Linked DNA regions of Homo sapiens: region 2 is linked to region 1. Evidence: fine-mapped expression QTL. Tissue or cell type: whole blood. Region 1 holds a variant in brackets; the other region holds the start of a gene. All regions are shown on one strand. Distances are between the middles of the regions.

Region 1 (8,107 bases):
CTAGATTACATCACTGAAAGATATTGATTTTCACCAACTCCATTAATTATTTTTTGATGTGGAGATAAAAGATATAATCAGACACAATCCTGTAAAAATCAATTCACCTCCTTGGATATCATGATGATTTTAGTCACATATGCTCCTTTTGGATGGACATACCTATAAGGAAAGAAATTTTTTTAAATGCAGAAGTATATTAAATTTATTTGTTAAATAAACAACGAACATCTCCAGATAGCAGCAAACGGCAAGGAATTACATCCAGCTATAATTTAACCAGCCCGCCTTAGGATTGCCGCTATTAGAGTTCAGTGGTGGTATAAACCATCTCTAGTGTATGCTTTTTCTATAGATGGTTTATTAGATGATTTACAATGAAATCGAACACATGACTGTTCTTTAACCCCTCCAGGAACCTGATGAAATGCCTGGTCTAACAGGAGGATGCAGAGAAAGTTATGAAGAGAGGTAGGTGAGCTTCTGTGTTATTTATTCTTGGTCCTGCAATATGGTCAGTGAAGCATCCTGAGCGCTCACCGTTTCCCAGTGCTATAAAGCAAATTGGATGGATGAGTGTGATTTAGAGGAGAAGGAAACTGCAGTTATCACTGCTTTACCTTGACCTCTGCCTGGAGACAAGGCTGAGAGGGTGACTACAAAATTAGAGCAACAACTAACATATGCTGGATACATATCCTGGGCCAGGATGATGCCAGGTATTTTACAGTCGGTCACTCCTCACAACAACCCTATGAGCAGCAGTCTCTTCCTTAAGATTTTGAGCGGGCCCAGTAATCACTACCCCTCTTCATCCCCTTAATTCTCAAAAAATTAAGATATAAGACAAAGGAGTAACAGATGAAGATGTTATAATATCACCTCTATTACTGATAAAGTCTCCCTTACAGTGCTAGTGGGAGCATAAATCGATATAGCCATTTTGGAAAACTAAACCTGAATATATGCATTCTCTATGCCCCAGCAATTCCACTCACAGAAATATACCCAGTAAAGTGTGTACGTATGCTCACCAAACGACATGTACTAGAATGCTCATAGTAGCACTATTTGTAAAACTGGAAAATACCCATTTGCCTGGCAACAGTAGAAGGGATCAATAAATCTTGGTATACTCACACAATAGATTATTATATAGCAATAAGAATGATCAAACCGTAATTACAGGCAACAATATAGATGAATATTGCAAATGTAACATACTGGCAAAAAAAACAGATGCAGAAGAGCATGAACTGTATGATTTCATTTATGCAAAGTACAAAAGTGGGAAAATGAATTGGGTTTTAGAAGTCAGTTCAAGATAGTTGTTGCCCTTGGGTGGGGACAGTGATTGAGAGGGAGGAGGCAGGAGACTTCTTGGGGACTAGCACTATTATTTTTCTTGAAATGAGTACTAGTTACTTGGGTGTGTTTGGTTGTGAAAATTATAGAGCGATACACAAGCAGTAAGCATCTTTACCATATATATAGTTCTTCAATTAAAAAAATTTTTAAATCCTCTCTTGATCCCGTCTTCCCATCCAACTACCACTATCTCTCCTCTTCCCTGTAAAGCAAATGTTTTTGAATGGAGTGTCTTTGCTCGCTGTGTCCAATGTCTGCATTCTCTCTTGAACCCAGTCCAGCAAACCTTTTGCCCTAGATTCTAAAAAGCTGCTCTTATAAAGATCAATGATGACTTGCATATGGCTAAACCCAATGCTCAGCTTGCCTCATTGTACTTACCAGCAGCATTCCATACAGAATATCACTCTCTGCATATTCTTTTGGTTTCTGTACACAGTATCCATCACTAGGTGAACTCATGGAGCCTCATGGCTTTAAATGCCCTGTCTGTACTGATGACTGTCTCATTTATATTTTCAGCCCAAATCTCTCCTTGGCACATCAGACTTGTGCATTCAATTGCCCACTCAACATCTCAAACATAATATATTCCAAACAGATGTCCTGATATCCTCCAAACCTGCCCTTCCCACATTCTCCTCCTTCTTATTAAGCTTCTCAGATCTACTCCATCCTTCCAGTTGTGTAGCCCCCAAACTTTGGAATAACCCTAAACTTCTCTTTTTTTTTCTCATACAATGCATCTAATCCATTAACCAGACCTGTTGATTCTACCTTCAAAATATATCCAGAATTTACCCACTTCTTGCTGCTTAGACTGCCACCATCCTGGTCCAATCCACCTTCCTCTCTTGCCTGAATTATCTCAATAGCCTTCTAGATGCTTCTTCCCTGCCCCTCACTGCCCTGCCCCTTGCCTCTGCCCTTGCTGCCCCACAACCTATTTCCTACAAAGAGCGATCCCAGTAAACAATAATCCAAATTATGTCATTTGTCTGCTCCAGACCCTCCTGTTTTCCATCTCACTTAGATGAAAAGGCAATTCCAGGCTGTGAACTTCAAGACTCTGTATGATCTGACCTCACACTGGCTTTCAAACCTCATCTTGCACACTGCTTCCCCAGTGTGCTCTGCGTTAGCCGCATGGGGATTTTTATGGGTCCCTGGACACTCCGGGCATTTCCCTGGCTCAGGGCGTTTGCATTGGCTGTTTCTGCTTACTGGAGTTCTCTTTCCCTGCTATATACATGGTTTTCTCTCTCATTTCCTTCAGGTCTTTCTTTACTCAAATGACATCTTTTTTAAAAGAGGATTTCTATCTAAAATTTTATACACATATCTCTGTATCCCCCTTCTCAGCATTTTTTTTTCTCCTTGGCACTTATCACTCTCATGTGTGTGTTTGTTCATGTATTTATTGACTGAGTGATTTTTTTCTCTCCCAATAAGCTGCAAACTCTGTGAAGACAGGGATATTTTTCCCATTTTTGCCCCATCATGCTGCAAGCCCAAGGTACAATTAGAACACATCCAATTCACTGTCCATCTACCTGTGGCACTTCAACCATGACCACAAACCAAATCACTCTTCCTGTATCACATTCCCTGAGAGACTTTGTTTTCTCCCACAGGAAAGATTTGTTTATTTTTCTGATTCAATCAAATGTACCACTAGTTTCTGCAGGATTATTTGTACCTCTTTCAGGATCCTGAGGAATTTGCTCCTGGGCCATGAAGATGGGAAGCTGAGTCAGAGTGCAGTTCTTCACCCAATCCCACAGCCACACGTGCCTGCTTGCTCACGGGATCTTCCCACTCTCCTCGGGAAGGCTTCCGAGCTGCTTCCTCAGGATGTCCTGTGATAGCAGCCTGACCTGTCAAAGCCATGCGAATACCATCTGTTCAGTTATATAACTTGAGATCTGGGAAGAATTCTCAACGTAGGATTTGCTGCCCAAATCAAATCATTTTCAGAAAGGAGATTAAGCATTCTTTGCTGGGAAAAGGAGAAATTACCAGAAAAAATTATCATTTCACTGAGTATAAACAAACCTTTGTCCAAAATACACAAATGAAAATGACAAATTTGCTTCATTAATATTTGCTTGCATTAAAAATATACACAGGGCTA[T/G]GTATGGTTCAATATCTTAAGTGCAAAGTAAAATCTTAATTAGGAACAATGGAATTGTTAATTTAATGAATCTTAATTTTGTTTAGATCATTAGCCTGCAGTATAATGTCCCAAGCAGAATTTGGGGTGGGGAGCTTGGTGGTGGAAGAGGAAGTGCTCATTTCTACAGACATGACAAGATTATTAACACTAAAGAATGACTTTTCTTTCATGGGAGGGGAAGATATCTGACCCACCAGCAGTCAGACAGAAACCCTGACTTGTGATTTTAACATTACCTTATATGACCCATGGTCACCTTGTATGACCAAAGAAAACCATTTATGAAATAGCTGTCCGGAGTTCAAGATTTAAATGGTAACTTTGTAGACTAGGTTTTCTCTCATCATCTAATTTACTTGCCTTAACGCTTGTTTCTTTGCCCTTATTCCTACTGGCTCTCGAGTATAATATCCTGAGAATTTATGTTGAACAGCACTAATTTTTTCACTTGGAGCTAGCACATGTTTATGACTAGTACAAGTTTATAACTACAAAAAACAGAGATTTTGTCATCTTAAACTGAATTTACTGGGAATAAAATCAGTCAATTCAGAAAAGTATAACAAAGGAAATAAAAATCACCACAACTCCTACTACCTGAAGATTAAATGGTTAAAGTGTTTTGTATATTCTTCTGTAATTTTTACACCTACATGTTTTTTAAATAAAAATTAACCCTACCTATAAACCAAACAATATTATTTAACTAACAGGAGAAGAATAAATTATATTTTTTGATTGGCTGTATAGCAAAGAGAATCCTGCCATTCAGAAAAAAACAGGGTAAGACAAGGAAGGAAGCCAAATAGATGGACTGCAATGGAAGTTCACCCAGAATGAATAAATGAATGAATGAATGAATGAATGAATGGAGGAGCTATTTTACTGACTGTGGTCAGTCAGGGAACACCTATCAGAAAAAGCAGCATTTGGCCGGGGGCAGTGGCTCATGCCTGTAATCCCAGCACTTTGGGAGGCTGAGGCAGGCGGATCACCTGAGGTCAGGAGTTCGAGACCAGCCTGACCAACATGGTGAAACCCCGTCTCTACTAAAAATACAAAAATTAGCCGGGTATGGTGGCAGGCACCTGTAATCCAGCTACACCAGAGGCTGAGGCAGGAGAATCGCTTGAACCCAGGAGGCAGAGGTTGCAGTAAGCTGAGATTGCACCACTGCACTCGAGCCTGGTCAACAGAGCCAGACCCCGTCTCAAAAAACAAAAAAAAAAAGAAAGAAAGAAAGTAAGAAAAGAAAAGTAGAAACAGCCTTTGAGTAGAGACCAGTGAGCGATGGAACTCTGTAAGGATCTGGGGGAAAACTTATCTATCTGGTAGGAGGAAACCACAAGTGTGAAGGTAATGAGACAGGAGTGGAGTCAGTGAATTGGCGGAACAGAACAGCACAGAGGACCCTGGAGCTAGCCCGGGATGAGGCAGCGGAGAACAGCAGGAGACGACATGGAGGGAGACAGGTTTTTCCTTTTCCAGTTTTCTTCAGTTCTTTTGATTGACTCAGGAGAAGAGTCTTAGTTTGATATTAGCACATACTTAACACTTCTGGTGTTCACTACTCTATTTTTCAACAAAAAGACAGCAGACTTTGGGATCACAGCCTTCTGAGAGGATGGTATTTAACTAAAATATAATAACGTTGGTTTTTATTTTTTTTATTTTCACAATTACTATCTTTTCTTTTTTGATATAGGGTCTCACTCTGTTGCCCAGGCTGAGTGCAGTGACACCATCACAGCTCACTGCAGCCTCTAACTCCTGGACTCAGGAGGTGGGATCCTCCCCCCGCAGCCCCTCAAGTAGCTGGGACTGTAGGCATGCAGCACCACCTCCAGCTAATTTTTTACTTTTTGTAGAGATGGGGTCTTGCTATGTTGCCCAGGCTGGTCTCATACTTCCGGGCTCAAGCAATCCTCCCACCTTGGCTTCCCAAAGTGCTGGTATTACAGACATGAGCCACCGCACCCAGCACACAATTCCTCTCTGTTTATAGCAAGTTATGCTGGTTTCCTGTTTACAGGAGTGATAAAGTCTTTTTTAAAACAAATGTATTTAAGTTTCAAATTAAATCATCTTAAAGAAAAATATGACATAAGAAATGTCAAAAAGTGGTACATGATCAGAAGTGGCAAAAATCATAAAAGTAATTGGCAAGTGACTTAAGTTTGGGAAACACAGTTCTAATCCATCCCACCTATACCTGAACACCCTAAAGATGAATCCAAACCTATTAGAGACTTATTCCTGCTTTCTAAGATGATCACAACCTAGTTAATCTAGCTATAAATTAATCTGGATCACTAGTCAGTGATACTCCCACCTTCAAGTAAAATGGCTGCTTTTTGAGAGCTTTAATTCAGATTCTGTTCAGAAGAAATAACAGGTATCATTGTTAGTACAAGGACTGGTCATAGAGCTATATCCTGCCTGTTAACCACATAGATTCTGGCAGTGATTTCCCATTGATATCATCTAGGTAGTTTTACTGGTTTTTCCCCTAGTTGTTTCTCTTTTTTTGTTTGTTTGTTTGTTTTGACAGAGTATCGCTCTGTCGCCCAGGCTGGAGTGCAATGGTGCGACTTCAGTTCACTGCAACCTCCGCCTCCTGGGTTCAAGCTATTCTCCTGCCTCAGCCTCCCGAGTAGCTGGGATTACAGGTGGCCACCACCACACCTGGCTAATTTTTTGTATGTTTTGCAGAGGCAAGGTTTCACTACATTGACCAGGCTGGTCTTGAACTTCTGACCTCAGGTAATCCACCCACCTCAGCCTCCCAAAGTGCTGGGATTACAGGCCTGAGCCACCACGCCCAGCTCTCAGTTGTTTCTTAATTTGCCTGCCAGTTTGTTTTTTATATGATACTAATTGAAATGGAGGTCCTTCTTAAATGAACTTCTTTCACAAACAAAAACATTAGTTTTGGCAGTGATGGCTTACAAGAGTGTGTTCTATAATACCTACTTTGCAGATGCAATTTGAATTCTTCAATATGAGTTATTTGGATTTCTTTTTTCTGAAATTCTTTCTAATGAGATTTTTGTGGATTTTTTTTTTTGAGACAGTGTCTCACTATTGCCTATGCTGGAGTGCAGTGGCACGATCATGGCTCACTGCAGCCTCAAATTCCTGGGCTCAAGCGATCCTCCTGCCTCAGCCTCCCGCCTCAGCCTCCTCCCTCAGTCTTCTGAGTAGCTGGGCCTACAGGTAAATGCCACCACCCAACTAATCTTTTATTTTTTGTAGAGACAAAGTCTCACTATGTTACCCAGGCTGGTCTCAAACTCCTGAACTCAAGCAATCCTCCCATCTTGGCCTCCCAAAGTTCTAATGAGATTTAAGCAAGGAGATGGATGGAAGTTGCTTTGTACTGTTGATGTTCTCAGAAAAAAGAAAATCGAATCTGAACACAGCTATTGCAAGTACAGGTGCAGACTGATTACTAGCAAGTTAGATGGCCCAACACCATATCCATCTAAATGTAAATATTTTGCTTCTTTTTCAGTGGCTTCTAGAAGAGTGAGTCTGGAAAATACTGCCCCTACTTTCAAATGGGAGAAAGCCTCCCTTGTACTAAGTTTGCAATCATTAGAAAACTGTTGATATACAGCAAAAGAAACTACCATCAGAGTGAACAGGCAACCTACAGAATGGGAGAAAATTTTTGCAATCTACTCATCTGACAAAGGGCTAATAGCCAGAATCTACAAAGAACTCAAACAAATTTACAAGAAAAAACAAACAACCCCATCAAAAAGTGGGCAAAGGATATGAACAGACACTTCTCAAAAGAAGACATTTATGCAGCCAACAGACACATGAAAAAATGCTCATCATCACTGGCCATCAGAGAAATGCAAATCAAAATCACAATGAGATACCATCTCACACCAGTTAGAAAGGCAGTCATTAAAAAGTCAGGAAACAACAGGTGCTGGAGAGGATGTGGAGAAATAGGAACACTTTTACACTATTAGTGGGACTGTAAACTGGTTCAACCATTGTGGAAGACAGTGTGGCGATTCCTCAAGGATCCAGAACTAGAAATACCATTTGACCCAGCCATCCCATTACTGGGTATATACCCAAAGGATTATAAATCATGCTGCTATAAAGACACATGCACACGTATGTTTATTGTGGCACTATTCACAATAGCAAAGACTTGGAACCAACCCAAATGTCCATCAGTGATAGACTAGATTAAGAAAATGTGGCACATATACACCATGGAATACTATGCAGCCATAAAAAAGGATGAGTTCATGTCCTTTGTAGGGACATGGATGAAGCTGGAAACCATCATTCTCAGCAAACTATCGCAAGGACAAAAAACCAAATACTGCATGTTCTCACTCATAGGTGGGAATTGAACAATGAGAACACTTGGACACAGGAAGGGGAACATCACACACTGGGGCCTGTTGTGGGGTGGGGGGAGGGGAGAGGGATAGCATTAGGAGATATACCTAATGTAAATGACGAGTTACTGGGTGCAGCACACCAACATGGCACATGTATACATGTGTAACAAACCTGCATGTTGTGTACATG
Region 2 (8,100 bases), 85 kb before region 1:
GCTTTCAGGATATAGAACTTCAGATACCCACAAAACCATCTCTTCTAGTGTTGTCTGGAAATAAGTCTTGTGTTTATTCACTTTTACGTATAACTGTATCTCATCTTTCCAGGAAGATTGGAAACATATTCATGTTTAAGGCATCACAGTAGCTGACTCATCATTAGCTGTCAACAAATAAATACTTCACAATTAGATTTCTGGGAACAGTCTTCACCAAGAGACAGAAAGTTAACTGGAACTAAAATTTTAATCCCCTCAAACTCCAAGGAGACCTGTTTTCCAGGCATGATCCAACAGAACCGCTGCTTTTTAGAGTACCTTGGAGAGGCTATTTCTGAGGACAGCAAGCTAACAGGATCACCCCCCACCACCCTTTGCTTCAATTTGCCCTAGTACTCAGACTTAATTGGTGGGGACATGGGCATGTGTATAAAGCACGTGGAGATTATTTGTTATAATTCATCAGGGCTACCATTTGAAATTGGCCAGCACAATCATCCCTACTTGACCATAGTAATCAAGATGTGGCTGAGAAAGAAGGAGTGTTTGTTTCAACAAGCCAGAGAGCTGGTCTTCTGCTTTCTAAATGGACAATTTATAAAATTTAGATAGAGAGGCATCTTCCACTCTAGGCATGTACAACCCACCCCGCCATCCCAGTACATTCTTCTCTTTCCTTACATTTACCCATCCCTCCTGCCCCTCCTGCTTTCTTGAAGGTGAGTGAGCAGGTCCCAGGCTTACAGCTCAGTTGGACTGCGGTTGCCCTGTCTTCTCTGGTGATTTCTCTGTCTTATGGTCAGGAGCCAGACTCTGAGTCTGTTCAACTATGTAGAGGAAAGGTCACTAGAGAAATTCCACTTCAGCATTCCTCTAGGGATCAGAGATTCTGACTGCTCAACAAAATTACCTGGAGGAGAATTTTAATAATATGGCTTCCTGGAACTTACCCTGAAACATTCTGATTCAGTCAGTCTGGGGTGAAGATCAATTGGCTATATTTTTCTAAATCTTTATAGATGATTCTGATGCACTGGCAAGTTTGGACATTGGATAAATTCTAAGCTCTTTGAGATCAGGAAACAGATGAATCTCCCATTCTGTATCCCACAATGACTAACTCAGCACCTGGCACACAGCAACACTTTAGAAATTGTTATTGAGTCAATGAACAAATGGATGGTTGAAAATAGGGTGATGGATTGGGAGTACAGTCAACCTAGCATCTTTTAAAATAATTTTTAAATTGACAAATAATAATTGTACACACTCATGGGGGTACACAGTGATGTTTTGATATGTATTGTGTACAATAAATCAGGGTAATTGGCATATCCATTATCTCAAACATTTATCATTTCTTTGTGTTGGAAAATTCAATATCCTTGTTCTAGCTATTTGAAATTATATATTGTTAACTATAATCATCCCACAGTGGTATAGAACAGTACAGCTTATTCTTCCTATCTAGCTATAATTGTGTTTACTTTAACAAATCTCTCCCTATTCATCCCTCCCAGCCTCCAGTGTCCTCTGTTCTACTGTTTACTTCTATGAGATCAACTGTTTTTTTTAGCTTTCACATAGAAGAACATACAGTGTTTAACTTTGCCTTCCTGGTTATTTCCTTCAACATAATGTCTCTCCATTCTACCCACGTTGCTGCACATGATAAGATTTTAGTCTTTTTTATGGCTGAGTTGTATTCCATCGTTAAATACACACACACACACACACACACACACACACACACACACACCATATTTTCTTTATCCATTCTTTTTTTTTTCTGGACACCTGGTCAACCTAGCATTTTACCTAAAGGCTAGGCAAGGGCCAATGGAGGCAGAAGGCCAAACCAGTCACAGTGGGGCCAGGGATAGGAATAAGGCAGCAGCGTGGGGGTGGAAATAGAAGAAAACTTAGGTAATTTGATCCCCAAGTGGGAGAACATGACCCCTGTCCTTGAAAATGCTGCTACTTTCAGCGGTGCTGCCGCTTGCTGCCCCTGTGCTGGGACTGACAGGCCTTGCGCTCTCCAGTCCCACTAAGAAAGCAAATTGGATTGGTCACTTCCCTGTTTAAACCTTCCAAGGCCCTGCATTGTTCTCAGGATGAAGTCAATTCTCCTTTCTCTGGCTGAGTCCTGGCTCCTCCTCAGCCCATCACTGCTACTTGCCCTCATCTCTCTGTGCCCACCGGCCACCCTGCCTTCCTGCAGATCCTACCGCCTGCGGTGTTCTTTCACCAGCCTGTCCTCTCTGCCTGCAATGCTCATTCCCTGCCCCCATGTTCCCTAGCAAACTCTCCTGCGACCGTTAAATTACAGCCTAAAAACATCCGCTTCTCTTTTCCCCTGGGGGCTGCCAGTTCCCTGGGGTAGAGTTCAGTCTGTTGTGTCCAAAGCCTAGCCAGTAGATGCTCCCATGTTTGTTGAATGAACAGAAGTTGGGACGGGAAACCAACAGACGCTCAGGACTGGGGTTTGTTTTTGTTCCTGTAAAACTGGATTGGTTCTGCAGAGGCACAAACAAGCCCGTTGATTTAGATCTATCGAGGAATTGGGGTAGGGGCAGGGGTGGCAGTTTTGCTAAGAAGAAAAGCAGGTGAAAGTGGGAGATTCCAAAAGAGACCAGAGAGAAGGCAGTGTGTCCTGCCCAATCTGCCGCTAGGGTCAGAGACCAGCTCCCTAGTCACACTCGGCCAAGGCAGGCTGCCGGGCTGACTCCAACTCTAAACAAAGCCAGGCAGCCGCCCAGGTGGGTGAAGGCTGCAGATTGCGCTCAGGCGTGACGCCGGGGTGCAGGTGGGAGCGACGCCCGGGTGCGTGGGTGCAGCGCTCGCCCGCCCGCGGTTAGGCGCACCGCGGGAACCGGTCAGGTGCGCCGTGTGGGGCGGGGCGGAGGCAGGGCGTGCGCCCCCAGGCTGGTGCCTGGGGCAGAGGATTCGCCTGCTTGACGCGCTGATGCCTTGATTTGGTCTGACAAGTGGAGGCTGCTTTGAGAAGCGGCCTGTATTTTTGACATTCAGGAAGCTAGAAATAACCAGCTGGGCTCCTGGCGCTCTGGCCGCAAATGTCTTGCGCTTTCCAGGCAACTGCCAGATTGAAGGGGCTTTTCCCCAATGTAGACCTGTGCTCTGTGTGCTAGGAGGCCGAGGTTCCAGTCCAGGCTCGGCTTCTGACTCCCTACTTTAGGAGGAATCACTGAATTGACTGCAGCTCGGCTTCTGCTCTGTAAAATGGGGCTGTTGCTAGCTGAGCCTCTTCTGCCTCTGGTAGAAAATGATTCCAAGTGGCTGCCCTGTCCACCCTAATCCCATGGCCCGAACTTGATGTCTGCTGCTTCTAGAAGCCTAGTGCTCCAAATATCTGCTCTGGGAGGGACTTGCAGATGATCCTGATTGGAAATGAGGCTGATTAACCTTTTGTGTATCATTGACTCTAGGACAATCTGTTGAAACCTAGGGGCTCTTACCCTAGACAAATTAACACACCAGCCAGATACAGCTTACAAGGGCAGAGAGTTGCTGGTTTGAACCACAGACCCCTGGTTTAACATCTGTAATCTAGTCAACCCCTCCTCTTTCTTGAAGGCTGAACCAAACACGAAGGGTTTTCCCCACCTTCCAATCCTCATACATGCAGACACCCCCTTTTCCTGCTTTCTCCTTCAGTCATCTTCCTCACCATCCCCCATGCTTGGGCACTCTCAGGAGGGAAATTGTCCTATAAATATCTGTAAAAGGCATGGTATGTCCTGTAGCAGAGAAAGCAAAAAATAAAAATATAATTCCTCCACCCCTGGCATGGCACGTGCAGAGCTCTGCCTGATCCTTCTCTCCCACAAGCCTCGGGGGTGGGTAAACAAAAGTGAGAGGTGAAGCTGCTGCAGCGAAGTACCCCTTCAAAATCTTCAGTACCCTTCAGAGCCAGCGCTGTCATCACTATCACATAAACTGTACAACTCCAACGTCAACCAGCAGCCGCCTGGCTGGCAGCAGGAAGAGCCAATGCAATTTTGCACAGTGGCTTGCTTGCCCAAGGTATTGCCTGGCAAATGGGCTTCTTGTGCAATGGGGAACCACAGGGAGGGGCCTCTTAAATGTACCTCAAAGAAACAGCTCTAACAATGGATGATTCAACAGGCTAGTAATTGGCGCTCACTCTTACCACATTGTTTTGATAAAACGACATAGCCCAACTGGGGATATGAAGGCAGTAAGTAGAAAAGCTAACCTCTTGCTACTCAAATTGTGGCTGAGAACCAGCGACATCCCATCACCAGAAGCTTTATAGAAAAGCCAGGCTCTGTCCCAGACCTATTGAAAGGAGATCTGCATTTTAACATGATTGCGAGAGGATCCACATCTTAAAGTTTCAGAGGCCTAATCCAAAGTCTTCTGATAATGATCATTAGAGTCCCAGCCACCCCCGACTTCCCCCTGGGAAAACCACAACAAATAGAACAAATTCCTCCAAGCTCTGCTCATAAGAAGAACCCACAACCCACAGACACCCCCTCACTCAACTAGAGACCTCACCCACCTGTTTGCAGAGTCACCCACCTTGGGCTACTTCTTTTCTACTATTTAATCTTCTGGGAAAACAGAGGTCTTCTATTTGGAGATAAAAATGACAAAGGAGAACCTCCTGAACAGCATCCAGTTTGCTTTTAGCTTTAGCCATCTCTCTGACCTCAGTGCTGCTGGACTCAGTTCCAAGATCTAACTGTCAAATGCTTTAGGGGAAACGGGAAGAGAAGTCCCTGGAGTAACCCATGTGCGCAGCCTGGCACTGTTTTCACTTGCCTTTGGAAATGAAGGTGCAGAAACCATGGGAGGTAAGGAGGGCACAGACTAGTGACTTCCAGTGTGGGACAGAGGGGAAAAGATGGAAGAGAAGTGCAGAAAACCACTCGGGAAAAGACAGGCTGGAGTGATGCCTGCTGAGACAGGGCCCTGATCTCCCAGGACTTCCCTTTCTGCCTGTTCTGTAGAAATGTCTCGGGTTTTGTGGTTTAGGAAAAGAGATGCTTAGCAAGCTTGTAGAAAATGTAATGTGGGCACTTTGTTGCTGTCCTGGCTTTTAAAGGACTCTGAAGCAGATCAGCTTCAAGGTATTGGCTATTCTGTTTGCAGCCTTAGAAAGACATCCTTGATGTTTTATTGTTCTGCCTTTGCTAAGAGCTGGAAACTCTCCCTGGGGAAATGGCTCACCTTGAAAGAGATGCTATCGTAGCTGAAAATGTTTTAGCTTCACTTCCAATCTCTGGTTCCTTGTGGGAAGTAACTGCTGCTGTGGTATATATGCCCTGTGCCTTTTATTTTTACCATCTTTACCTCGGTGGACACAGCTGGTTGAAACTCAGTAAAACTTATGCTTCCATGGAGATTGATTCAGACAACAGGAAAAATAAGTGTAGAAAAAAACTGCACAGTACAAGGGCTAGATTCAGGTTGTAGAACAAAGTGATTATTACTTAGAATCCTGGATTAGCAAGAGAATAAGAAAGATGCTGAGATTACCTAGTGTTATCACCATCCACGTGAAACGTAGAATAAAACTTTTTCCCCACCACATAGATATTGGGCAGTTTATTATAGATGCTACAAAGGGATTTATTATATTTTTCCCAAAATGGTTAATTAGAGGCATCCCAAATTACAACTCCTTTAGCATAACTCCCAGCTCCATGCAGCCTACTTACTAAGGACCCAGCTACTGACAGCTCAGCTCTTTGCCAATCCAACTTTTTTTCCCCATATGCTCAAACTTTTCTTCTCCAAGAAGACTTCCTGAATGATCCCAATTCATAGGGATCTCATCCTTAATGCAGGGGAAATTCACTGTTCTGGAGTAGTCTACCATACCATCACGCTCTTCTTTTTGTGTAATCCTGGATTTCTTCTCCAGTTGTTTTATTCTTGCCTGTCTACACAGATAGATCAGTAGCCTTCAATAGTCTGCATCTCCTGTTATCTTGCAGCCTCCTACTATAAACAGTAGGTGCTTTACTTATGCCAGTTGGGTTGACCTAGACAGTAGTCTCTAAGTAGCAGTCCTTGGCTCATCCTTCTGAAACCAACGAGCTCTTAGGCAGGCTGAGAAAGGGTTAGGACTGTTCACTCTGGGACATCCTTGGCTCTGTATGAGTGTTGTTTTTAAAAGCAGGGATTTTGTCTCCAGTGCATTGAAGAGATAAAACCCCATTGTCAGCATATTTCTTCAGGATCTTTCTGTGTTAGATCTCACTGCCAAGCCAGAGTCCCCACACACAGACTCTCACTTTTCCCCCATCAATAGGCTGAAGTGAGGCAAGTAGTAGAATGTGCTCAAATCATGGCCTATTCTTAATAAAAGAAACAAGGACAGCTTGGGGCTGGCTCGTCTCTTCTCAAATTCTCCTAGTGTTCTGAACCAAATGTATGAAACGAATAGATTTGTTTTATTCGCAGGTATTAATGCTTCTCCGAAAGCAGTTGTTTGGGTGGCTGGAATATCAGTAGTCATTGACCAATAAGGCTTGCAGGTGTGAATCAGAGCAGTATTCTGGACTTCCAGAGTAGAGCTGCCATCTACTACTCTACATCACCTTCATCCTTACAGAATCACTGAGACCATTCATTCATTCACAAGCAGTTGTGTCTGCTACATGCCAGGCACTTGTAGTAGGCATTAGAGATACAATGGCAAGTGAAACAGACACTGCATGTAATCTACTGAGAGAGACTGGGAATTAATTCAATAAGTAAAAGTAAGTATATAATTATCAATTGTGATAAAGGCCCTGAAGCAAAAGAATAGGATGTTCTACAAGAATATTACAAGAGCTTTATCTGATCTAACGTGTATGGGGAGGGGAAGCCTCAGGGAACGCTTCTTAGGGGAAGTGACATTTGAGCTGAGCGTTGAAAGAAGAATAAAAATTAAAAAGTACAGAGGGGGCCAGGTGCAGTGGCTCACACCTGTAATCTTAGCACTTTGGGAGGCCGAGGCAGATGGATCACTTGAGGTCAAGAGTTCGAAACCATCCTGGCCAACATGGTGAAACATCATGTCTACTAAAAATACAGAAAAATTAGCTGGGTGTGGTGGCAGGGTGCCTGTAATCCCAGCTACTTGGGAGGCTGAGGCAGGAGAACTGCTTGAACCCAGGAGGCGGAGGTTTCGGTGAGCCAAGATCGCACCACTGCACTCCAGCCTAGGCGACAGAGTGAGACTCTGTCTCAAAAAAAAAAAAAAAAAAAAGTGAAGAGGGGTTAGAGAGTGCCCAGGATACAAAGAGTTAGTTCATTGGAGGAACTGGAGTAAAGTCCTTGTGGCTGGATTAAAGGGGACGAGGAAAACCAAGATATAAAGAGGTAGGCAGGGGCTGGATCACATGTGCACACAGTTTTGAAGACTTTGGCTTTTATTTTGGAACAGTGGAAGGCTGTTTTAAGCAGAGGATGAGAACATTAAATTTATGTGTCCAGAAGATTGCTCTGATGAGACAAGCGGTGAACAAAAACATCATTACTCAGGTCTCATCCAACTCTTCCATTGTATATTCTAATAAACCACCCAAGTTCTGCTTTCAGAGCTCTGAGCCAAAGTGAGTTATACCTCCCCAGGCCCACTGAAAATCCCAGAGAGCTTACTGAATGGCGTGGGGGCCCTGGTAAAACTCACCGTTCAGGCATTTGAATCTGGGCCACTCTATTACTATCAGCATTTTGCCTCCACTCCCAAGGAAGAAATCCTTAAAATTATAACCTTTGGGTCCCCATGCCCAGGCAGGCTGACTTCTCTTGGATCACAATAATCATGGTTTTGACTATGAATTGCCGATCCCAAGTTAAATGATTAACCCAAGGTCAATGAGCTAGTCAGCTGCCAAACCAAGGACAGATTTTCAGTTCCCTGAACTCAAGGCAGATGCACTTCTCAGGAATGCTGTCAGAGGCTTAGAAAAAGAAAGTGTTCCATGTTCCCAAAATATGTAAACTTATTCTTTGATATTCATGTTTATTCTATGACTCAGAAGTTCCCACGATCATTTTCTGGGGTGATCAGAAACTCTCTTTGAGGGGGAAATGATTCCTTACTTGAAAAGC

The links. PIP is the estimated chance that this variant, and not a neighbour inherited with it, causes the effect.
Region 2: LINC03033 starts here. The variant in region 1 is fine-mapped to the expression of LINC03033 in whole blood (TOPMed, PIP 0.98). The same link has a PIP of 0.9 or more in thyroid.

Annotation. Positions count from the first base shown.
Region 1 is chr14:61,650,547-61,658,653 of GRCh38, forward strand. It overlaps LINC03033 (long intergenic non-protein coding RNA 3033), which reads left to right. Exons shown (of 3, transcript NR_039985.1): 2 at 416-471; 3 at 3,077-4,167. Among named protein-coding and RNA genes, the nearest start is that of HIF1A, 41 kb to the right of the region's middle. The variant T/G (reference allele first, on the strand shown) is at 3,503.
Region 2 is chr14:61,565,917-61,574,016 of GRCh38, forward strand. LINC03033 (long intergenic non-protein coding RNA 3033) reads left to right here and starts at 4,624. Exons shown (of 3, transcript NR_039985.1): 1 at 4,624-4,844. It overlaps LINC01303 (long intergenic non-protein coding RNA 1303), which reads right to left and starts at 4,737. Exons shown (of 5, transcript NR_110416.1): 1 at 4,570-4,737; 2 at 3,628-3,761. RefSeq lists enhancers at 2,329-2,830, 2,831-3,330 and silencers at 2,672-2,741, 2,822-2,981, 3,722-3,914.